Linked DNA regions of Homo sapiens. The protein of the gene in region 6 purifies or fractionates together with the protein of the main gene of each other region. This does not show direct contact. Each region holds a gene or a part of one and is shown on either strand. Other genes may lie near its edges.

Region 1 (3,500 bases), on a different chromosome or scaffold from region 6:
ATGTTAACATTCAGGGAGTCTGGATGAAGGATATCAGAGAACTCTACTCGTGCAACTTTTCTGTAATCTGAAATTAGGTCAAAATAAAAACTTTTAAAATGTAGCCTGGGACCAGTAACAGTGGCATCATTTGGGAGCTTGTTAGAAATGAAGGATTTCAGGCCCCACACAAACCTACTATATCTGAATCTACATTTTAACAAAAACCACCAGGACAATCTTTGAGACCTCTAGTATTAAAGCAATGTTTGTATAAATAACTCTAAGAAAATGTCAACTATAAATCTGCATATGCTGTAGCTCAGAATTAATAATATGCTGGATATATAACTTTTTTTCTTTGTCTTTCAGCAAAAATAAGTACAAGTTCTAGTACTCAAAAGCATTTCCACACTTTAAACTTATTTAGAAGGGAAATAAACACAAGTGGCAGGAAAATCCCTTCCAAAGAATAATATGCTGTATTTCCAAATATTCCAGAATACTGAAATATTTTGAACCTAAGAAGCATCTAACTGTACAATTCACAACTGCAAAGATATGGAACCAACCTAAGTGCCCATCGACCAACAAGTGGGTAAAGAAAATGTGGTATTTATACATGATGGAATAGTTCTCACCCAAAAAAAGGAATGAAATAATGTCTTTTACAGCAACTTGGATGGAACTGGAGGCCACTATTCTAAATGAAGTAACCCAGGAATAGAAAAGCTAACACTGTATGTTCTCACTTGTAAGCAGGGGCTAAGCTATGGGCACGCAAAGGCATACAGAGTGGTATAATGGACTATGGGACTCAGAAGGGGGAGTGGGGTGGGGTAAGGGGTAAAAACTATAGATTGGGTACAATGTACACTACTCAGGTGATGGATGCACTAAAATCTCAGATTCTGACAATCTACAATTAATCCATGTAACCAAAAAAACCACTTGTACCCCAAAAGCTATTAAGATTAAAAAAAAGTTCAACAAAAATATGTAAAAAGTTAAAATAAAAAATAAAAAAAAATCTGACAGATATTAACAATTCACCTGCAACACAGACAGCCATGAGGGACAAAGTGCAAACTATTTTTCCCGGTATTTTTGAAATTCTAACATACTACTGTTTCTACAGACATCAGTACCTTAACAAAGGTTGTTTAATCCATATCCTCACACAATTTGATAATGTAAGCAATGAATATACAACTCTTGTCAATAGATTAGTTTATAGACCAAATGATACTGAAATACGAGGGGTGTGGAGAATCAATGAATCTCTTAGAAGAATAATATATTGTTCTGGAACACTACTGAAAACAACTTTTCTTAATTGTATAAAATATCATGAAACAATCTTAAATTCCAAAGACTCTCATACTATTTACCTAGCACTCATACTGTACACTTAGCAGATCTTCTCAGAAAAATCTATTTTTAGGATCCCAGTAAAAAGGAAAGCAGAATCAGTGCAGGAAAAAAGAAATCAATAGAGCACTGCTTCTTACAGAATTTACAGATGTATAAATGTGGGGGGCAAGAGAATGAGACTCTGTAATAAAACCTAACAGAAACAATAAAATAGGAGTACTCAGTAAGTGCACCTAGAGGGCAGAGACCGTGTGTGACGTGTTCATCTTTGTATGCCACAGGCAGTGCTTAATAAATGTGCACTGAATTAAAATAAATTAAGAACTGTAGAGAACACTACCATTACAGTATGTGAAGTCATACAGAACACAGCAGTATTTCTCTCGAGCAATGTAAATAACATGACACCAGCATGGAGGACCATGGAACTGATTATTCACATATCGCTAAAATTGTATATGCAACTCTTTTCAACAACAACCTAAATACCCGCTAAGTAAAAGTAGTTACAAAATATGTAAAAATGATCTGGAGCTGCTGTCTTCAAGTAATAATAACAACAACAAAGGTCAAAATGAAATAAAACTGAATGAAGTCCAGAAATGCCTCAGGACTGGCCAAGTGCGGAGGCTCACGCCTGTAATCCCAGCACTTTGGGAGGCCAAGGCAGGCAGATTGCCTGAGCTCAGAAGTTCACCACCAGCCTGGGCAACATGGTGAAACCCCGTCTCTACTAAAATACAAAAAAATTAGCCGGGCGTGGCGGCGTGTGCCTGTAGTCCCAGCTACTCGGGAGGCTGAGGCAGGAAAATTGCTTGAACCCGGGAGGCGGAGATTGCAGTGAGCCGAGATCCCACCACTACACTCCAGCCCGGGTGACAGAGCAAGACTCCCATCTCAAAAAAAAAAAAAAAAAAAAGAAATGCTTCAGGACTTTCCAATAATGTCCTTGATAAGAGTGCCTTTTGAAATCAATTTAAGAATCCTATAGTTAATCTCTTTAGAAATCCTTGAGTTTGAATAAGTGTTATTTCCTTACCAAATAAACCCAATAAAAATCAACTGCTTTTCAGAAATTAACTCCTCCTCTAATTATAAAGCAGAAGGAAAAGACCTTATTTTTTAAAAAGGGGTTGGGGGAGACCCAAAGGGTACAATAATTAGGGCTAAGTACAGAAAAGGCAATTCCAAATCTAAACTCCAGTTTCTCCACATGGTCCTAGGTAAACAAAGCTTTAGAACAAGCTTGACCAACCCACGGCCCAATATAAATTCGTAAACTTTCTTAAAACATAAAGAGATTTTTTTTGCAATTTTTTTTTCCCTTAGCTCATCAGCTATCATTAGTGTTAGTGTATTTTCTGTGTGCCCCAAGACAATTCTTCTTCCAATGTGGCCCAGGGAAGCCAAAGATTGGATGCCCCTGGTTCAGAAGGTATAAATACTACCACAAAGGTCCACAAATTTTCAGTTCTTCCCCTGAAGTCTCGTGACTGACTGGAGGACACAAAGGGATGCCCTGCCTATGATCCATTAGCAGAGTAATAAAGTTTGTGGAATTCTAAGCCTTACAGACTCTGGTTAACAAACCACATCACCCCCACACCCAATACTAGAAATAGCTACAGGCTGCATAAAGGTAGCCATGGGAAGAAAAGAAGGCCGGGCCGGTGCCAGGCATGGTGGCTCACGCCTGTAATCCCAGCACTTTGGGAGGCCAAGGTGGGAGGATCACTTGAGGTCAGGAGTTCAAGGCCACCCTGGCCAACATGGCAAAACCCCATCTCTACTAAAAATACAAAAATTAGCCAGGTGTAGTGGCATGTGCCTGTAATCCCAGCTACCTGGGAGGCTGAGGCAGGAGAATTGCTTGAACCTGGGAGGCAGTGATTGCAGTGAGCCGAGATCGTGCCACTGCACTCCAGCCGGTGGGACAGAGCAAGACTTTCCAACTCAAAAAAAAAAAAAAAAAAAAAAAAGGCAAGGCCAAGGGTCCCAAACATACACAAATGTGGTAGAATCTACAAGCTAGCTCAAGGGATTAACTTTTTCTACATATGAGACTTTTTTCATTAAACTTTCTGCCTATTTCAGGGAAAAAAAACAAAACAAAACAAAACAAAAAAAACAAGAACTAGATATTATTG
Region 2 (2,912 bases), on a different chromosome or scaffold from region 6:
AAAGGCTTGGAATTGAAACAAAACCTGATAGAAGAGGTAAGAGGTTGTTCTTTTCTAGAGCTTGCAATTGTTTGGTTTATAAAGGTAGGTATAGGACTGTTGGCCAGGGATAGGACTGTTGGCCAGGGGAACATACTAGTGGGGAAAAAAAAAAAATCTCCAAGCTGCCAATCCAGGCCTTTTTCCTCCAGCAGCAGCACCAGCAAAAACTTCCATAGTGATGATTTCCAGCTTTGACTAGCTCGTACTCTGTGCCCTGTCCTGCACTGTGTTTCTTATGCGTTGTTCCACTCCATCCTCATAACATCCCTGTGATGTGGGTACTAGGTGATGATGTTGCTGTTTTGCATTTGGGGTCACTGAAGCTTACAGAGATTTGTTAGCCTGCCTAATGTCAAAAAACAGGAGGCCAGGAATGGTGGGCCACGCCTGTAATCCCAGCACTTTGGGAGGCCAAGTGGGTCAGACAGCTTGAGTCTGGGAGCTCAAGAGCAGCCTGGGCAACATGACAAAACCTCATCTCTACAAAAAGAAAAGAAAAAAAAACTAGCTGGACGTGGTGGTACGCAGCCTGGGCAACAGAGTGAGACCCTGTCTTTAAAAAAAAAAAAAAAGAGCTGGGAGATTTACCAGGTGTAGGTGACTGCACCAACCCACTGTCTGTACAGCTTCTGACCTGCCAACCTGGGCTGCAGGCTGGGTGAAACAGTCTCCTCCTGCACAATGACTCCACTCCTAGAGGCTGCCTCATGGTGGCTTTGGCCAGCACCACGTGCAGAGCAGTACCGATCAGCTGCCTCCCCTTATAACAGAGAGGCTCCATGTGTTTCCATGTAGCAGGACCCTTCCTAATGTGGGTGAATGTTTCTAGGTTAACAGCTGATGATCAGTTCCACTGTTGGTCATAAATAAGTGAGAGACCTGGAAAAGGCCGTGGGGTGTAGATCCATGGCTCAGCCTCCCCTGTGGTTAGGGATCCTAATTTCAGTAATGGAGGTAGGAGACAACCAAATTAGAGGCCTCCAGTTCTTCCAGTTTCCATAGTTGTCAGGGGCCCAGAGCAGATTCATTCTCATCTGAGGCCAGAGTAGTGCCCGTTGTATGCTGCTGCTTGAACTCAGAGCCTCGTGAATTGTCCCACAGCTTCGGAAATGTGTGGACACCTACAAGTACCTTTTCATCTTCTCTGTGGCCAACATGAGGAACAGCAAGCTGAAGGACATCCGGAACGCCTGGAAGCACAGCCGGTGAGCGGGCAGGGGGAGGAAGGCCCTTCTGAGTGGGGACCCGGCCAGGCTGCTCTCAGTCAAAGCACAGGAGCAATTTCTGACCCTTTAGGTGCCTGGGTCATGCCGCTGACACCTTAATAAGGACAAAGTGCTACCTGCCACTGAAGAGCACTTCCTTTTCACTGTTAAAGCTGGTCTTGGGCAGGGTGCGGTGGTTCACGCCTGTAATCCTGGCACTTTGGGAGGCTGAGGCAGGGGGATCACCTGAAGTCAGGAGTTTGAGACCAGCCTGGCCAACATGGCGAAACCCCTTCTCTACTGAAAATACAAAAATTAGCCGGGCATGGTGGCAGGCACCTATAATCCCAGCTACTCAGGAGGCTGAAGCAGAAGAATCACTTGAACCCATGAGGCAGAGGCTGCAATGAGCTGAGATTGCACCATCGCACTCCAGCCTGGGTGACAGAGTGAAACTCCACCTCAAAAAGCAGATTTTGCACTGAGCTCCTAGGGGCAGGACTTGGCAGTTGCTCAGGAGATGTTTGAGAGGTGGGCCTTTCCGGAGAAGTGGCCCTTTAACCCTGGACTGTGGGCCATTTAGGAGCATCACACCAGTTTTAGAATGTCAGTAGGGACACTGCGACACAGACAGTGACCTGGGAGCAGGATGCAGGAGCCACATGGCAAGTTTCTGTCCTGGGGCAGGTGGCTCTGGTGGTGGTCTCTTGCCGCACCAGCTCTGGTTCAGGCTGTTAACATGCCTCCCGCATACATCCAGATAGAGAACTGGTACATGATGCTCGTGATGGGCTGGGAGACAAAATGTTGCCATGTCAGGAGTCTGTGGGTGGGAACATAATGAAAGGGACCCCAACGTGGGGACAGTGTGGCCAGGCAGCATGGAGAAGTGGGTGCCACTGGCTCAGCCTGGGCCTGAGCTCACTGGGGACCGGAGCTACTTTGCATGTTGCTGAGGGATGGGGAGGGCAGGGCTCTTCCTTCACAGAATGCTCTTTCTCTTGCTTGGTAGGATGTTCTTTGGCAAAAACAAGGTGATGATGGTGGCCTTGGGTCGGAGCCCATCTGATGAATACAAAGACAACCTGCACCAGGTAAGTCTCTGGCCCTCACGGGGTGGAGCTAAGGCAAAGCCGCCCTCTCTCCCACTACTCCCATGTGACAGCCTCCCCCAGCCATTGGCAGGCCGGAGGCTCAGGGAGAGCAGGGCCTGGCTTAAAGCTCTGGGTTCTCCCTTCACCTCCGGACCCAAGGAATAGCAGCTTCCTGCCTCCCACTCCTTCCTGCTATGACAACCAAAAACGTCTTTAAATGTTGCCAAATGTACCCGGTGAGCAAAAACGTGCCTAGTAGAGAACCACTGCTCTAATGTGACCAAGCTGTCCTCACTCCTGATTTGTAGGTCAGCAAAAGGTTGAGGGGTGAGGTGGGTCTCCTGTTCACCAACCGCACAAAGGAGGAGGTGAATGAGTAAGTACTGCTGAGGAACGGAGGGAAAGAGGCGGGTGAGAGGGGATTTCAGGGAGGGAATGATGCAGGAACTTCGTTCCATATGTGGCATCAAGTTGGAACTGCTCCTGGAAGCCTGTCACTGAGCTAGTGGCCTGGGACCACAGCCCTCTCTGTCCTCTCCAGCATGGTGCTCTGGGCTGGCTGCTGGCCAGC
Region 3 (3,500 bases), on a different chromosome or scaffold from region 6:
AGCTGCCAAGAGTGTAGCACAAATAATTACCCTACCTCAAATAACAGTAGTTCCCCATTTAGAAATAATGAATAGAGGATGTAGGTCTGTACAGATAAAGTTTACATGCTTCTCACTATACCACGTTTACTAAAATGCCTACCATGTGCCAGACACTATGCTTTATAAACATAATACATTTAATGTGATCTTTGTGGGAACTCTAAAGATAGGTATTATTTCCCACATTTAAAAAACGAGGAAATTGAGTGGCTAAGAAACGTGACTAAAATCACAAAACTAGAAAATAATGGAATCTGTATTTGATATCACAGCTGCCCTGACTCAAAGCCACTACTAGGTTTCTACAGTTTAGACAGCTGATGAAATTCTATTTTAGAATAAGTCAAAAAAGTATATCCCTTTAACTTTCACCATTCAGCACTACTCTTCCACACAGTAGCCCCTCCAATGGTCTTTAGAAAGACGCCATGTTCCTAGAATCTACTTTCCCACAGGCTAAATCCTGTTTTTTCAACTTTCCCCCCATGTGTCACCATTAGGAGTTGTGATTTTTATTCCTGAACCCATGCTAAGTCTCTAGGATAATCACCATTTTTTTTTTTTTGACAGAGTCTTGCCCTGTCACCCAGGCTGGAGTGCAGTGGCACCATCTCTGCTCATGGCAACCTTTGCCTCCCGGGTTCAAGTAATTCTAGTGCATCAGCCTCCCAAGTAGGTGGGATTACAGGCATGCACCAACACGCCCAACTAATTTTTGTATTTTTAGTAGAGATGGGATTTTGCTGTGTTGGCTAGGCTGGTCTCAAACTCCTGACCTCAAGCAATCTGCTGGCCTAGGCCTCCCAAAGTGCTGGGACTACAGGTGTGAGCCACCGCATCCGGCCAGAAAATGTAAACTTTTTAAAGGCAATAGATGGTATAAGTGAAATTTGTGTGACTATATAAAACACCCTGGATAAAACAGGGATAGAACATTTATTGAATTGATGAATGCCTGCTTCTTAGCAGAGTTACTAGTGGCCTCAAAGTGATGACAGTTGTTTTTTAACTGCCAAAAATAAAAAGAGGAAAACAGACCTTGCCACTTTGTGGAGGCAGTTTAAAAAAAGAAAAAGAGGCAGCAACTACCTTAAAAATAATTTTTTTCTGGAGTAGTTAAGTATTCAAGAGATTTTAGATATTTTGGTACATTAATCCAGTTAAGCCAAATTATAATATGGCCAACAAAACACATTACAAAGCTTGTTATAGTAGTTTCTGGAAAGCTACTAGTACAAGTGGATAAAGTAAGTTATATTGATAACAATTAAAGTCATAAAAGTTAGATTTTTTAAAAACAGCCTTTTAAACCACTAATAGAGTGTTCACTGATATTAGAAATAAAATGTTATTCTGGCAGCACAGAAAGTCTTGTCCCTATTTTGTAAATTCTTTATAATTTTATTTTAATGAAATTAAAAATCATAAAGATGACTCATTCAATTGGTCATCTTTAAGGTTACTGAACTCATAGCCATCATTCAATAAATAAATAAATAAAACAGCAACAATAATAACAAACCTAGATATCCTTTATCAAATCTCTTATCTCAACAGGAAGAAATACCTTGGGTTCAGGTGACACATTCATCTCAGGTCTGAGACTCACAGAAAAAGTTTTAGACTGGAACACACACATAACATGGGCCCAAGTCTCTACCTCAAAAACTTAATCCTGTGATACCACCTCTGGCAATGTAAAATCTAGCCACAACAAACCATATGCAGATCCCCAACTAGGTCAGCCCTTTCCTTCCTCTCTTTCCAAATGGTAGTCCCTCTGCACTGAGCGCTTTTCTCTGCCTTATTCCCCTCCTTCACCCTCATCCATCTAGATCCAGCTTCAGCATCTCTTTCTATGGGAAGTCTTTCCTCCCAGGGCAGACTTTGTACCAGTCACAGGGTCCCCACTATATCCTGCATTTCTCTATTTAATTGTACCATCCACACTATATTTTGTCAGTTTACATATCCATTTACTCCACCTATGAATTTCCTGGTTGTCTCTTGTTTTAGCTCTGCATCTTTTACTAAGAGTTACAACAATCTCTTGGCTGTAGCATGTGCCTGATAAATGTTTGGTGAATACAAAGGAAAAATCAGTTTATAGACTCTTGGAAAGAGATACAATTTTCTGATAAAAAAATTATTTTCTGAAAGTTATAGGCAATATTTCCTTATTCTTTTAAATATATTTTTAAGGGGGGTGAGGGAGAGGACAGGAAAACCTCCTTAAAAAAAAAAAGGATACTTGGGGTTTTACGATCTTCATTAATAACAATCAGGTCTGTGAAATCTCTTGCGATGCACTGTGGAATAATTTTTTTCAGAGCCAGTCCTCTTCTGTAATAAACATGTGAGTTTGGTATAACTGTGGAGAGCTGTTCACAGAGTCGTACTGTTCTCTGCAAAACAAAATAACAAAAATTTTGAATAGTTTTCAAAAAAGAATAAAAATCTTATGTGGTACATATTCATAAGGAAAGAAATAATAATTATTATGATTAATAGAAAGCAACATTGAGGAAAGCATGAAACTCGAACAGTGTGTCCTCTTTTATCAAAGGCTGATCATCCTAAAGCAGTGGTTCTCAATTAGGGGCGATTCTGCTCCATCAGAGGACACATTTGGCAATGTCTGGAGACATTTTTGATGGTTATGACTGATGGTAGTGGTAGTGGTGTGTGGTTGCTACTGGCACCTAAAGCATAGAGGCCAGGGAAGCTGCTAAACATCCTGTAATGAACAGGATAGCTCACCATAACAAAGAATTCTCCAGCTAAAATGTTAACAATGTTGAGGTTGAGAAATCCTATCTTGAAGAATCATGTTTAGTAAACCTACATCATATTACCAGAGCTACGTTTTATTTACTTAGTCACAGGCATTCTTTAAGGCAATTAACTAATGGTTTAACTCTTCTGAACAGAGTACTTTAAATAGAAGTAATAAGAAAATTAAGAATTCAAGAACTAAATTAATCAATGTGTTTACCCCATGAGGTCTATCTGATGTTGTGATGAGAATCTTGGGAGAAGTCTGTTTGTTGAAGTAAGAAGCAAATTCATCTGTAGCTTCATCATAAGCGACCTGAGAACAGAGAAGAGGAATAATTTTACATCAAAGAAATACTCTACTGGGCCAGAATTCTAAAAGTAGCATCAGCAGGACTGTTGGACACTGAGTATCTAGCTGATAGGGGCTTTAAAGACAGACTAGGAAGGACTGACATTAATGGACACGTGAAGAGAATGGATGAGTGGATTTCTCCTGTGTAAAATACAAGTACAAAACTGAATAAAATTGTCAGAAATCACTTCAGGGCAGAAACTGAGATGTGTTTACTCTTGAACTACTTTCATTTCCCTCATCAACTTGGTTAGTAAAAACAATAACCACAAAAAAAACAAAACAAACAAACAAAAAAAGAACCAAAAAAAACTAATGAAATTACGAG
Region 4 (3,500 bases), on a different chromosome or scaffold from region 6:
TGGACAGGCTCAGAGGGCCACAGTGGGGCTCCAGGCCCGGCATGGGAAGCACTGTCAGCTCAAGCCCATCTGTGCCCTTGTGGTGAAATGTGCTGTGCCACTCTGGGGAGGGTGCGTACCTGGACGGCAGGGCCTGGAGGGTGGGTGGCAGTGCTGCTCTTGGCTCTTCTGAAGAACAGGGGCTTTGGTAAGAAGGGGGTGTCAAACTTCACAAAGTCGCTCTCTGCCCTCAGCTTCTGCTTCTTCAGGGAACTGCAAGTCCCACTGCTTCCCTACGTGAGCGAGGGGTGAGAAGCGGAGGAGGGGTCAGACGACAGAGCCTCCTGTGCTGCCCACACACACAGGAGGGGAAGGCAGAGCCCCAGGCAGATCCAGCCCACCCGACGGCCCGCGGTCTTCCGCACCGCACTTGCAGACAGCCCTTCCATTCGGCAGAGCTCAGGCTTCACGCACAACACGACCGCTATCATGGCACCATGCCAAGAGGGGCGATGAAAACGCCTCGTCAGAGTAAGGACCCACTTTTATCTTCATCTTCAAAATGGGGATTTTGGCCTTTCAAAGCCGATCTGTTAATAAGATCGACTCTCCCATTTGTAGCTGAATCGTCACTGCGCTGGCAGTCTGGTGTGGAGGACAGTGATGCCCATGTGGGGCTGTGGGTCCCTCACAGGCAGGCCCAGGACACTCATTGCGTGTGCAGCAACTGACAGCCACCCAGAGAGAGACCGGGTCTCGTACTTGGCTCTCAGAGGTGTGGGCAGCCCAGTGCCGCTGCCGACACACGGGTGGCTCCGGCAGGTTCAAGTGTGCCGCCTGGAGGGCAGGGAAGCCCGAGGAGCTTCTCCTGTGCGCCTTCCCTGTGCCATGACAGATGGCAGGGGAAAGCTTCCCTTGACCCTGGGACTTATTGAGCAACACCCCATCCTCTTTACAATAGGCTGCCAGGGGCCTGAGACGACAGCAAGAAAGGCAATGTCTCTGGCCCTCTTAGTGAGGGAGCAGCGCTGAGGGTACGAGGGGCAGGCTGCAGTCCAGGGAGGAGATGGCGGCACTGTGAGGTAGGAGAGACTCGAGGCTAGAAATGGGCCTCCTGCCGTCCAGCTCAGTGCACTGCTGCCCCTGGGTAAGGCTTTCCTGACCATAAACTCACTCACTAGCCACTTGCAGACACTCTTAGCCCCAAACCAGCGCTTCACCAGGTCCACACATGTCCACTTAAACAAGAGATGTCATAATCTCCGCAAAGCGGTGTGTGCAAACCAAGAGGTGACCAAGGTGCGCAAACTCTGTGAAGGGCAGAGTTATTTTCTGCTTTACAGACCGCAGGTCTCTGTCTCTACCACTCCCCTCTGCCGCTGCAGCATGAAAGTGGCCACAGACCTGCACATACAAGTGGATGTGGCTCTGTTGCAGTGACACTACGTTTGCCGGCCCTGGCCTGGAAGCCCAGGGCGCCCAGAGGTGGTGTGAAAAGCGGATCAGGGCCAGGCGCGGGGGCTCTCGCCTGTAATCCCGCACTTTGGGAGGCCGAGGCAGGTGGACTGCTTGAGCCCAGCCTGGGCAACAAGGCAAAACTCTGTCTCTACAAAAATAACAAAAATTAGCTGGGCATGGTGATGTGTATCTGTAATTCCAGCTACTTGGGAGGCAGAGGCAGAAGAATCGCTTGAACCTGGGAGGTGGAGGTTGCAGTGAGCCGAGATTGTGCCACCGCACTCCAGCCTGGGTGACACAGCCAGACCCAAGACCAGATCAACAGCTTGGTTCCTCATTTATATCTGGCTCTAGAAATCAAAGTGGAAGGAAAGTCTTTCCATTAAGAAGATAAGTGGTCCTGCTAGTGAAGTTTCTTGAGCTGGGGGGTAGGGGGGAAGCTAAGAAAAGAAAAGAATATAGAAAAGAAGGTGAGTGAAGCAAGAGAATTTTGGGCTTCCTCTTTTGCCAAAGGGGCCTGGACTGGCCATGCGCTGATGAAGAAAACCAGACCTGCCTTTGACAGAGGCCTAGACTGGCCTGAACACGCCTGGGGCAGGAGTGCCTGGCCCAAGGGATAACTTTCCCAGCTTGGAGTGGGCCCTCCCGAACCCAAGCATGTGGCCTAAGGGAGTGAAGGTGGCCGATGAGGAGGACCGAAGTACTGGTCACCTGTGATTTCCTCCTTAGTGAAGGCTGTTATGAACACACCCTATTCTAACTGCTGCTGAGTCCAGAGGCCTGGCCGCCAGCCCCCACCCTTCCTCTCAGGAGGCAGTGGAGCCCCATGGACGCGAGTGAGTGCCTCTGTGGCGAGCTGGCCTGTGGGTGCTCCCACCTTACCAGAGCCTGGGGTTGCCCAGCTTCGGACTCCAGCACCCCGTTGTGCTCCACCAAGTTTGACATCACTCTCATTTTCTTCCTCTTTTTCAAACTTGCTGTTTTCTGGCTGGGCAGGCCACAGAGCTCCAGGCTGCCGGGCCCTGCCTTCTTTTTCTGCAGCCTCCTGCGCTGGGGCAGCGTGGTGTGGCTGTTCGCCCCCTCTGCGGGGCCTGTGGGAGGGCCTTCCTGCTGCAATGGAGGCCAGGCCGGCGTGGACAGGCCACTGCCATTGACGGGCACAACTCCAAGTTTCCGCTTCCTTTTTAGGAGTTGGGCTCCACCTGTCGGGGACCCTCTAGGTCCCTGAGGATGACTGCCACTCGGGCCACTCTGAGACATGTCCTCTGGGGGCAACACTGCTGATTCCAACATTTCCCTGTGGGCCCTCGGGCTCTTCTTCCGTGGCCGTTTCCTTTTATTGTGCATGGGGACGGCTGGAGGATGCTCGGAGCCACTCTCCTCCCCAGTGCTGGACGTGGCCTCTGCACCTGGCTCGGCCACACGTGCCTTCAGGGCTTTCAGCCCAGAGGCCTCGGGCTCCCTGCCCCGGTTCTGTTCCAGGGATGGGGCTGCACCCCCTGGGCCTGGATTTTCAGGCTGCAGGTGGTGCTTCTTCTTCTTCTTCCTTCTTCTCTTTTGAAGACTGCTTTCACTGTCCTCTTCCTCTACACAAAAGACTCTGCTTCCTAAAAAGACAGAAACCCATCAACAAGCACCCAGTGCCAGCTGGGCCAGAGTCCTGCTGGCGATTCTCAGACAGTATGACTGGCGGACGCAATTTCCTGACATTCTACCACGAGGAAAGTTCCTGTCTCCCTTGAGGTACTTGGTGCGCCCACTACCTTTGTCGTCTGGTCCCACTTCCTCCATCCCCAACTGTGACTGGAAGCCTTCCTTCTGTCCGTTTATAAACACATATGGAACTGAAATAGTCCCATTTCCACTAATTTTAGGGCTCAAGGGTAAAAACCATAGATCTCGAGTGGTCATCAAACAGCCGCCCCCCAGTGCTCCCTGCAGCTCCTGCTTCCCTGCAGAGGTGCCCTGGAGAGCAGGCGGACGTGAGCGGGGTGAGGTGGGGACGCGGCTCCACCAAAAACAGCACAACACTTGGAAAACCGCCTTTACCTCTCAGCCATTAA
Region 5 (3,500 bases), on a different chromosome or scaffold from region 6:
GTTCTGAGCACATGTGAGTTACAACAACATTTCTCATATTAAGTGATTCCTTGAGTTCAGTAAGCATACCTACACTTCTAAGGGATACACCTTAGATGTAATGAACTGATTAGGAATGACTGGCCATTTCTTAAGAACTTGAACTAAATTATAATGAACTGAGAACGAACTTCTAATGAACTCGATGGAGTAGTCAGCAGCAGGGTTGTAATGGCAGAGACAGGCACTCAACAGAGAAGACCTGGACACATCCTGGGGCTGGCATACTTTTCCTAGCTAGGTAACACCCAGAGATCCAGCTCTACTGATAGGAGACTTGGCAGGAAGCTCAGTGCAAACATGCTGTGGTACACCTATCACCTTCTCCACTGTGAAGGACATGCTCAGAGTCCCTCACTGGGACCTCCTTATCAGGATACACAAAGTCTTCTATTATCTCGACTACCTGGCATTATATTAGATATTTGCCATTGTTTCCACAGTATCTAGAATAGTGTCTGGTATATAACAGCCACTCAATAACTAGGTGTTGAATGATTATTTTAGGTGCTGTTCTAGTTTATGGGGATATAGTGGTCCATATGAACTCCTAGCCCTCACGGAGTTTACAGTGTTCTGTTGACGGGAGAATAACACAGCAAACAGAAAGAAAACCTCAGCCAGGTATAGTATCTATAGGCATTTGTAGTCTCAGCTATTCGGGAGACTGGGGTGGGAGGATCATTTGAGGCCAGGAGTTCAAGGATGTTGTGGGCTTGGTCACGCCTGTGAACAGCCACTATACTCCAGCCTGGGCAACAAAGTGAGATCCTGTCTCCCCGCAAAAAAAAGAACTGGTAGGCGCTGGTAAGAACATGTTAAGATAATGAGGTTTTTAAGCATGGCAGTGATATAAACTGATTTACCTTCTGAAAAGATCACACTGGTGGATATGTAGAAGATAAATGAGAAGGGAACAAGAGCGGAAGAGAGAAGTAAAAAGGCTCCTATAATAGTACAGGCAAGAGATGACGGCCTTCTGAATCAAGGTGAAAGCAGGAAAAAAATGGATACAGATTTCTAATGTATTTTTGGGACAATCAGTAAGACTTGCTAATGGTTTAGATGTGGGGAATAAAGGAAAGAGGAATCAAGGATGACTACTAGGTTTATGGCTTAAGAAATCAGGCAGGCAGTTGAAAGAGTAGAAATAAGGAAAAACATGAACTTGAGGGTAGAGATGAGAGCCAAATTGATAACAAATAGATTACTAAATGGGGAGACTCCCTCAGTCTCAGTCTCACCACCCTTTAGCTCCTAAAATATCTAAGAATAAGGGCATCCAGAATTCCCCAGGCAGGACATAAGATAATTTCTCTCTGGGGATGATGAGGAAAAAAAAAGACTTAACAGATTCTGATACAGGAGATCTCCGAATAAAACCTCCTGGAGCCATTCCAAATCTTCTATACATCTAGCAGTTGACAGACCCTCTCCCACACCTTGTCTCCCTCCAGCTTCCAATCATCATTGTAGTGCCACACTTTTAAATACAAACAATGACCACTGATCACCAGACATTTGAGAAAAGCTTCTAATATGAAAGAAAGAGACAAAAGTAAAGGAATGGAAGGGCTTGGGAGGGAATTCCAAGAGGAAAGACAGATAATACATACCATAAATAAAAATTTCAAAAGCAAATTGTAATTAATACCCTTAGGAGAAGATATATGCCCATTAAGAACACAGAGTTGATGACTCAAGGGGCATTTACAAAACACAAAGAACACAAAGCTATGAAAAAGGAACAGTAGGCCAGGCGCAGTGGCTCACGCCTGTAATCCCAGCACTTTGGGAGGCCGAGGCGGGTGGATCACGAGGTCAGGAGATCGAGACCATCCTGGCTAACATGGTGAAACCCCGTCTCCACTAAAAATACAAAAAATTAGCCGGGTGTGATCGCAGGCGCCTGTAGTCCCAGCTACTAGGGAGGCTGAGGCAGGAGAATGGCGCGAACCCGGGAGATGGAGCTTGCAGTGAGCCGAGATCATGCCACTGCACTCCAGCCTGGGCGACAGAGTGAGAGTTCATCTCAAAAAAAAAAAGTAAAAAAAAAAAGAAAAACTTTTAGAAATTAAAAATATAAGAGAAAACCAAGTAATAAGAACCAGAATTCAAGGTCAAGGAAATTAGAGGGTATAACAAAATAAATAGAAAACAGGAGAGAAAAGAAAACAGGATCAATCCAAAAGAATCAAGAGTGGATGTGGGCATCTGGTATCTAGAACATATAAAGAACTCTTAACAACCCGATAATAAAAAGACAAACAACGTAATTGAAAAACGAGGCAAAAGACTTGAGTAGACCTTTCTCCAAAAAGATAATACAAATGGTCAATCAGCATATGAAAAAATGTTCAGCCGGGTGTGGTGGCTCACACCTGTAATCCCAGCACTTTGGGAGGCTGAGGCAGGTGGATCACTTGAGGTCAGGAGTTCAAGACCAGCCTGGCCAACATGGTGAAACCCCAACCCTACTAAAAATGCAAAATTCAGCTGGGCATGGTGGCACACGCCTGTATTCCCAGCTACTTGGGAGTCTGAGGCAGGAGAATTGCTTGAACCTGGGAGGCAGAGGTTGTGGTGAGCCGAGATCATGCCACTGCACTCCAGCCTGGGCAACAGTAAGACTCCATCTCAAAAAAAAAAAACAAAAAACAAACAAACAAAAACCAAAAAACACTTCATTCAATGTCATTAGTCATTAGGAAACTTCAAATCAAAATTACAATGAGAATCTATTTCATACCCTCGAAGATGGCTATAATCCGAAAATGGAAAACAAGTATTAGTGAGGATGTGAAGAAACTCAAATACTCAAACACTGCAGGTGGGAATGTAAAATAGTGTGGCTGATGTGGAGAACATTAAAAAGAATTACCATATGACCCAGCAATTCCACTTATCAAACAAAACCTTGTGCACCTGAATGTTCACAGCAGCACTATTCACAACACCCATAAGGGGAAAGAAATCCAAATGCCCAGCAACCGTTGAATGGATATGAAACGTGGTACATGCAATGGACTATTATTTAGCCTTAAAAAGAAAGGAAGTACTGATATATGCTACAATGTGCGTGACCTTCAAAAGCACCATGCTAAGGGAAATAAGCCAGGCACAAAGGTCTCATTATATATGATTCCATTTATAAGAAATATTCAAAACAGGTAAATTCACACATGAAAAGAGCATATTAGTGGTTGCCAGAGGCTGGGGGTAGGAGGAGGAGAGACAGACTTCTTAATGGGTATTAAGTTTCCTTTTAGGGTGAGGAAAGTGTTTTGGAACTAGAGGTGATGGTTGCACAACATGAATGTACTAAATACCACTGAACTGTACACTTTAAAATGGTTAATTTTATGTTATGTGGATTTTGCCTTAACAACAACAAAAAAGAACCAATAGGGAGGGGTGATGTGTGTGTGAGGAAATGAAAACAGCAAGTGAAGGCAAGTGTT
Region 6 (3,500 bases):
CAAGTAAAACTCAGTTATTTACTTTGCAAATTTGAGGATTTCTTATTTATTGCGGGTGTGGGGTAGTCTTCCCCAGTTGGATTCAAGACTCCTATAATTTATGTCAAAGACTAATTCCTTCCATCCCTTCAACTATCCTTCCATCCAAACCACCCCTATTTTCATTTCTTTCACTCGCATCAAAAATCTAGCCCTCACTTGAGTTTGCCAAATGATACTAAAGACAACCTAATAAAAATGCCCTTTTAGGAACAACACACACCGGGTCCTGTTGGGGTGTGAGGGGCAGGGGGAGGGAGCCTAGATGATGGGTCAATAGGTGCAGCAAACCACCATGGCCCATGCATACCTATATAACAAACCTGCACATTCTGCACATGTATCCAGGAACTTAAAGTACAAGTTTTTTTAAAAGCCCTTTTAATTAAGTGGGTTTAGTGGGCTCTTGTTTCTCCCAGGCCAGAGCAAATAATGCCAGCACAATGGCTTTTGAGCACATTCATGTCAGGTCACCCTTGATTCTCAGAAGGTCCCTGGAGCTGATGTGCATAAAACATAGTTTGTGGACTGTGCCCAACTGCACTGGAAAAATGACACTGGAAAAGGATGCAAGACACCTTCCATTCCCATCTTACAATTATTTCTGGTTTATCTATTACCTCAAAATAACTGCTAAAAGCACTTCTTCATTCTAGGCATTAGTCTTTTTGAGGATCTGGCCCCTGCTCTGTACTCCCACAGCCTCAACCAACCCACTATCCAGACTAACAAAATTGACTGACACTGAAGGGTTTGCAGTTTCCTAAGGCCCCAAACCCACTTGCCTCAGGACATTTTCACTTGACTGCTCTGATCTGGATCTTCCCACCTTCTCTTACTCATCCTTTACTTCTTAGGGTATATCTCACCATCTTCCTTACATGACAGCTGCTCTTAGACTCTACAATTCAGTGCGTGCCCTTGGGTCTTGTTTATCCTGACATTCCCAGTACCAGCATGGCGCCTTCCCTCCAAAGAACAGATGCCCAAGTAATGTTTGAGAAATAAGTGAGCCAGTGTGCAAGAAGTCAGTTTTATTATGATGTTCCTTCTCCTACATTGTTGAATAAACTAATCATATCTAAGTATCTATCTCTTAATTTTACAGAACAGACTAAACATAACGGAATGAAAGCATTTATCATCTTTTACATTTTACCTCTATTTCTTCATCCCAACTATTTTACTGCTTTTTTAAAAAAATATTTCCAAGGAAATGGCTAATCCACTACTATGTTATCTCATTGGAGATCACTAAATAAGATGGAAATTTTCCCATTTTTTTCTATAAAATAGTAAAACTCTACTCTAAAACCTCACAAACATCAATAAATGTATGACTTACTATCACTTATAATCTTGGATTCTTAAGCTACTTTAACCTTCTATTAAAAGGAACAACGTTTAAATATCCAAGTTACCCAGAACATGTTATGTACTATGTTATAACGAGACACAGCCAACCCTCCACTAGTGAAACACTGACTGTCCTCTTCAAAAACACAGTAAAGCATTTTCCTCAGCCTTCACTTGGAGCAGGCAAGGCTGCTGGACGTGGCCTTGGAACGTGCACTGGCCATGGTGGCAGTACGGGCCCTGGCTGCAATTCTGGCTTGGGATCTCTCTTCCACATCTTTCAAAGCCTCTTCATAATGGGATGGGAAGGCACTGGGGACTGTACCATGGATCTTGGCCAAAAACTCTAGGACTTTCATCTTGCTGGTTTCAGCATAGGCTCGTGGACGCCACAGGAATTCATAGCTTGGAGGACTGCTGTTGGGCACTTCCCAATACTCCAGGTACTGCTCTTGCACTAAATCTTTGGTGAGGAGGTTCCTGGGCTCTCCATAGATGACGTGCTCCTGTCCCTCGTATACCCCCATCATATTTAGCACCTTCCAGACTTCCTCCTCAGGGGCACAATTCCCCTGGCTGAAGATCGCACTCAGGATGGTCATCAGCAGGCCATTCTTGGGCAAACTTCTGTTAGGATTCACTCTTGTGTCATGGCCTAATTCTAGTTTGTTGACAAGGACATAGATGCTCTTGTTGGGATCCACTTCTCTCACGTCAAGGCCAAAGACCAACTCCAGGTGATCAGAAGCTCTCCTCAGGATCTCAGGGAAGAGGCTCTTTTACGTCTGGATTACATTTTTCAGCATATCTGCCTTTGTAATGGGCTCTTGCATTTGACATTTGTACAGCAGGTAATGCACCAACATAGCAATCTTCTTATCTATAGGGCCTCTGGGCCACTGCCCAGTGGTAGCCTGGGCCTGTGAGGCATTTGACCTTTCCTCAACTTGGCTGTCGATGCCTTCATTAGATGCTGTGCATGAAACAGCTGCAGCAGTGGTGATGGCTAGAGCTATCCCAGGCTCTTGCTCATTGCTGGGTGTTTCGACAGCAGATGACCTCTCAGGACTATCTTTGAAATGAGGAGATGAAGTGAGGGACTCTCCTTCCTCTGCTACAGTGACTTGAGCACCTTCCACGTCCTTGGGCTCTTCTCGAGCCTGGCGGCGTTTCTCACGGGCACGGGGCTTACTTTTCTGACCCCGAGGCATTATGACTCTGCTCAGAGGTAAGTAGTAGTGTGAGACAGATGGCAGGTGATGAAGTGACCTCAAGGAAAGAAGGTGTGATCCTCCAGCAGGAAGATATCACCTTGACTTTATGGAAGTTGCTTCTGTAGGTTTCTTTGAGAACACTGTTCAAGGATCCTATGAGGCTACTCTTCTCTGAAGGGCCTTTCCCCTGAGGAATCAGTGGAAGTAACTAGACTGTACCTTTGCTGAAGCCTGCCAGTATTACCTGCATCTTACTGGGACTGATACAGTGACTGGCAGGTCCAGACTCTATGGAGCTTCCTTTTTTTCTGGGGTAGACGATGTTTCTTTCAATTCACATTCAGGGCCATCACCTTGACTTCTGGCAGGACCTGTTATCTCACTGCTGAACTGTTTTGATGCTGACTCCCTCATTCCAAAGCGCTCATATCCTTGACTCCCCAGACAAGAAATTGAGGGGGAATCTCATGTGACCACATTTGCAGGGGGACATTGTGGAATGGCAGCAATGCAGAGATCGGTGAGACCCTCTTTATCTTGAGGTAATTAGTTTTCAGTCCTCAGTCTTTACTTTTGCTTCTTGGAGGGTCTGATTGCCCTCCTTTTGCTTACCTGAAACCTATCCCCTCCAAGCAAGGCCTTCACATCCCTGACATTCCTGATAAAGATATTAGGGAGGCCTCAGATGTATCTTCCCCAGGGACCCCTATCAGGAAAGACAGCACTCTTAGGGCTCTATGAATCCTCTTTTACTTCTGGAAATTCAGGTTCCTCCTAATGACTCCTCACCTTGACAGCCTCATACCTTCCCCTCTGAGGACTTGAGGCCTATACCAATCAGAGAAAGGCCCTCTTCCACTTGATATCCCAGAGTATGCAGTTGGAGGGAGG
Region 7 (3,500 bases), on a different chromosome or scaffold from region 6:
CCAAAATTAACACCCTTACGGGGAAAATGTTATTACCTAAGAATTTTGTCTAACACAACATCACCTTTCTAAGAAGTAACAAAGGACACTCTGAATGTCCTACAAGATTCTGAAATGAAAAACCCTAAAGCCAAGTCTAAGATCTATACTGGTGGTATCTGGGGTCCCAGTCAGTTATTAACTGGCCATGACTGATGCTGTTTCTGTCAATATGACTGGCAGACATGAATGAATCAGGCCTGATTTCAAGTTTATCTCACCAGGACCATTCAGTGATGGGAAAGAAGAAGGTCAGCCATGGCTTTTGCTGAGGTCCTGCTTACCACTTCTGGCAGACACGAATTTTTCTTTTTACGTTCCTTTTTTGTTGTTGTTGAGACAGGGTCTGTCGCCCAGGCTGAGTGCAGTGGCATGATCACAGCTCACTGCAGCCTTGACCTTCCAAGGCTCAATCCTCCCATCTCAGCCTTGTAGCTCGGGCTACAGGTACAAGCCACCATACCTGGCTGATATTTTAATTTTTTGTAGAGACAGGGTTTCATCATGTTGCTCAGACTGGTCTTGAACTCCTGGATTCAAGGCCTCAGCCTCCCAAATTACAAGTTTGAGCCACCACACCTGGCCGTGAATTTTTCAACAGGGGATTATTTTCATCTGATGTTTAACTCACATAGGAAAAAAGAAATCCCAAACCTAAACTTTGGATTTGGCCTGTCTCTACTGTCACACTGTCTTATTTTGCCAGAAAAATCAAAGCCTATTCCACAATTAACGAAAGCCTAACAGTTATAAATCTTTCACACAGGCTTCATTTCTAGAGTGCAAATCACACTTAGTAATTTCAGTCCTAATTACCCTTCATCCTCATCCTACAAATAGAGAGGAGCAAGCTGCCCTCCACAAAGCGTCCCCAGACCACAAAGATACTGACACAATCAACGATCTAACCCAGAGCCTCCTGGGGCCAGTGGACATGCGAGGCCCCTCTGAGCACATTATGGTCCAAATGGATGAGACACTCCTCAGCAGGACTCCTTGAACTGTCAGGCAGATAAAGCCTTGCCTTGAAGCCTGCCCCTGGAGGTGCCCCAGTTCCCTAGGGTGAGGCGAGAGACCATCTTGCAATCAGAGAGCCCACAGCACTCACCTTCTCCTCTGACTTGAGTGCGGGTTTGGTGGGCTGCGCCTGCGGGACTTTGAAACCAAGGATCTCCAGCATGTTCTCGGCTGCATTGCGCTTGGCCACCTTCTTGTTGGTGCCCGTTCCTTCTGCAGTGTGGTTTCCAACCTTCACCTGCACAAAGAAGTCAAAACACAGACCAGTGCTTAAACCTTCAGAATAACAACCAGGCAGGAATTGGTGTGTCAGCAAAATAACCAACTATGGTCAGAAGCAAGATAACAGCAGTGCCCCGAACCTGGCCTCCTTGTCTCTGAGAGCTAATTATTAAATAGTCAGGAGTTTGGGAAGCTGGCTGTTAAACACAGCCAGTATTAAACATTTAATTATATAAGCTGATAATTATTTTAACAGAGGTAATTTTTGACTGCATTTTATAATCATCTGTGTTCTGAGGGTCTGCCCAGCTATTGCATTTGTACAATGGAAACAGTCTGTGATGGTGAACTACTGTACATCTATTCCCAGCATTGCCATTGGAAGTATCACTTTGAGAGCTTGAAATCAGCCATGGTGGGACTATTTATACCACAGAAATATACAAATGCTACGTATCAAAGATCATAAGCTGTTTATTGTCTAACTCTAAACCTACAATGATGAAAAGGTTAATAAAGCAGGTTAATCTTAAAAGCATGAGAAGTCTGCAGCCATTACATTGTAACTAGCACAAAAAACTGAAATATCTTCCCGTCTTTGAAAATTATCTAATTTTGCAGAGAAGCCACTCATATCATTTACAAATGAGTGATGTTACATGTCTTCATTGTTTCACTTTTTCTTTTTTCTTTTTTGGGATAGACAGGGTCTCACTTCTTCACCCAGGATGGAGTGCAATGGCATGATCTCAGCTCACTGCAACCTCCACTTCCCAGGTTCAAGCGATTCTCCTGCCTCAGCCACCCGAGTAGCTGGGATTACAGGCGTGTGCCACCATGCCTGGCTAACTTTTCTATTTTTAGCAGAAATGAGGGTTCACCATGTTGGTCAGGCTGGTCTCGAACCCCTGACCTCAAGTGATCCGTCATGCTGGGATTACAGGCGTAAGCCATCAAGCCCAGCCTGTTTTACTTTCATCTTACCTATTAACATAAATAAAAAACATCAACCAGCCGGGCGTGGTGGCTCACGCCTGTAATCCCAGCACTTTGGGAGGCTGAGGTGGGTGGATCACCTGAGGTCAGGAGTTCGAGACCAGTCTGGCCAACATGGTGAAACCCCATCTCTACTAAAAATACAAAAAGTAGCTGGGCGTGATGGTGGGCACCCGTGAATCCCAGCTACTCGGGAGGCTGAGGCAGGAGAATCACTTGAACCTGGGAGGCAGAGGTTGCAGTGAGCCGAGATCACACCACTGCCCTGCAGCCTGGACAACAGAGCAAGTTGACTCCATTCCCCTCTACCCCAAAAAAAATGTATCTCAACCAGTATTCATGCTACAACCAAAATCTCAAATCTACAGTATGTATTTGTCAGTGACATGAGCAACACCTTTGCTGAACTGGATAGTAATAAACCATTATGTGCTGTCTGATTTTATAACACTATCGTTGGTAACTGTCACACTGAAATATGTATGAAATTTACAATAAAGTGTATATTATTTATAAATTGTACTACACATCCTTTCTGTCAGTAAAATTTATAAAACACACATATATGTCAGTATAATTTATAACACACATCCTTTGTGTCAGTAAAATTTATAACACACATGTATATAACACCCATGTATATATCTATAACATACATATTCAGCTCATTCCACCAAACCACCCTCCCCGAAGAAGAGCTGGTTGTTAAACATGTTCCAGCACATCACTACTTACAACCCCCTTCCAAGTTGATTGTAATAACAGGCACCTGGCTGCTAAAACCAAAAGCCCAGGTCACAAGACTCAGAGAGTCAAAGAAACCATTCCCTGGCCTGGGACTAAATTCCAACCTGGCCATCTACCAGCCATTTCATCTTGGGCAAACTACTGATCCTCTCAGCAAACTGCAACTTCCTTTTGTGGAATGAAAGGATCATTCTTTTCCTACCTTCTGACTGCATAGGTAAAATATACGAGGTCAACTTTCTAAGTTATAAATTGCTATACAAGAGATAAGGATTCTGTCTTACATCAGAAAGCACTTAAATTCAAATCACAATTAAGTTAAGCTGCCTATGTGAAATGACCACTTAGCTTTGAACTTAATCAGCTAAGTACAAAGAAATGTTCCATACTAATCTGAAGTGTCACCCAATCTAAGGAAGAGGTAACCCTAGATTCCAGACTCCATAAGAATTAGGAGGAAGAGGAACAGATCTCTTGAT

The links.
Region 1: the proteins of MAGEB10 (region 6) and RSL24D1 purify together in Homo sapiens (affinity purification with mass spectrometry; 2 studies listed by BioGRID and IntAct, with this or other methods). This does not show direct contact.
Region 2: the proteins of MAGEB10 (region 6) and MRTO4 purify together in Homo sapiens (affinity purification with mass spectrometry; 2 studies listed by BioGRID and IntAct, with this or other methods). This does not show direct contact.
Region 3: the proteins of MAGEB10 (region 6) and RPF1 purify together in Homo sapiens (affinity purification with mass spectrometry; 2 studies listed by BioGRID and IntAct, with this or other methods). This does not show direct contact.
Region 4: the proteins of MAGEB10 (region 6) and RRP1B purify together in Homo sapiens (affinity purification with mass spectrometry; 2 studies listed by BioGRID and IntAct, with this or other methods). This does not show direct contact.
Region 5: the proteins of MAGEB10 (region 6) and LLPH purify together in Homo sapiens (affinity purification with mass spectrometry; 2 studies listed by BioGRID and IntAct, with this or other methods). This does not show direct contact.
Region 7: the proteins of MAGEB10 (region 6) and STAU1 purify together in Homo sapiens (affinity purification with mass spectrometry; 2 studies listed by BioGRID and IntAct, with this or other methods). This does not show direct contact.

Annotation. Positions count from the first base shown.
Region 1 is NC_000015.10:55,186,942-55,190,441, forward strand, and holds part of RSL24D1 (probable ribosome biogenesis protein RLP24), read right to left. Parts: intron 1-3,500. UniProt on the Homo sapiens protein: Involved in the biogenesis of the 60S ribosomal subunit. Ensures the docking of GTPBP4/NOG1 to pre-60S particles.
Region 2 is NC_000001.11:19,254,805-19,257,716, forward strand, and holds part of MRTO4 (mRNA turnover protein 4 homolog), read left to right. Parts: coding exon 1-36; intron 37-1,143; coding exon 1,144-1,247; intron 1,248-2,259; coding exon 2,260-2,341; intron 2,342-2,649; coding exon 2,650-2,717; intron 2,718-2,912. UniProt on the Homo sapiens protein: Component of the ribosome assembly machinery. Nuclear paralog of the ribosomal protein P0, it binds pre-60S subunits at an early stage of assembly in the nucleolus, and is replaced by P0 in cytoplasmic pre-60S subunits and mature 80S ribosomes.
Region 3 is NC_000001.11:84,489,266-84,492,765, reverse strand, and holds part of RPF1 (ribosome production factor 1), read right to left. Parts: intron 3,134-3,500; coding exon 3,038-3,133; intron 2,448-3,037; coding exon 2,294-2,447; intron 1-2,293.
Region 4 is NC_000021.9:43,687,060-43,690,559, reverse strand, and holds part of RRP1B (ribosomal RNA processing protein 1 homolog B), read right to left. Parts: intron 3,045-3,500; coding exon 2,320-3,044; intron 273-2,319; coding exon 120-272; intron 1-119. UniProt on the Homo sapiens protein: Positively regulates DNA damage-induced apoptosis by acting as a transcriptional coactivator of proapoptotic target genes of the transcriptional activator E2F1.
Region 5 is NC_000012.12:66,124,251-66,127,750, forward strand, and holds part of LLPH (protein LLP homolog), read right to left. Parts: intron 1-3,500. UniProt on the Homo sapiens protein: In hippocampal neurons, regulates dendritic and spine growth and synaptic transmission.
Region 6 is NC_000023.11:27,810,990-27,814,489, reverse strand, and holds part of MAGEB10 (melanoma-associated antigen B10), read right to left. Parts: intron 1-3,500.
Region 7 is NC_000020.11:49,118,835-49,122,334, forward strand, and holds part of STAU1 (double-stranded RNA-binding protein Staufen homolog 1), read right to left. Parts: intron 1,295-3,500; coding exon 1,148-1,294; intron 1-1,147. UniProt on the Homo sapiens protein: Binds double-stranded RNA (regardless of the sequence) and tubulin.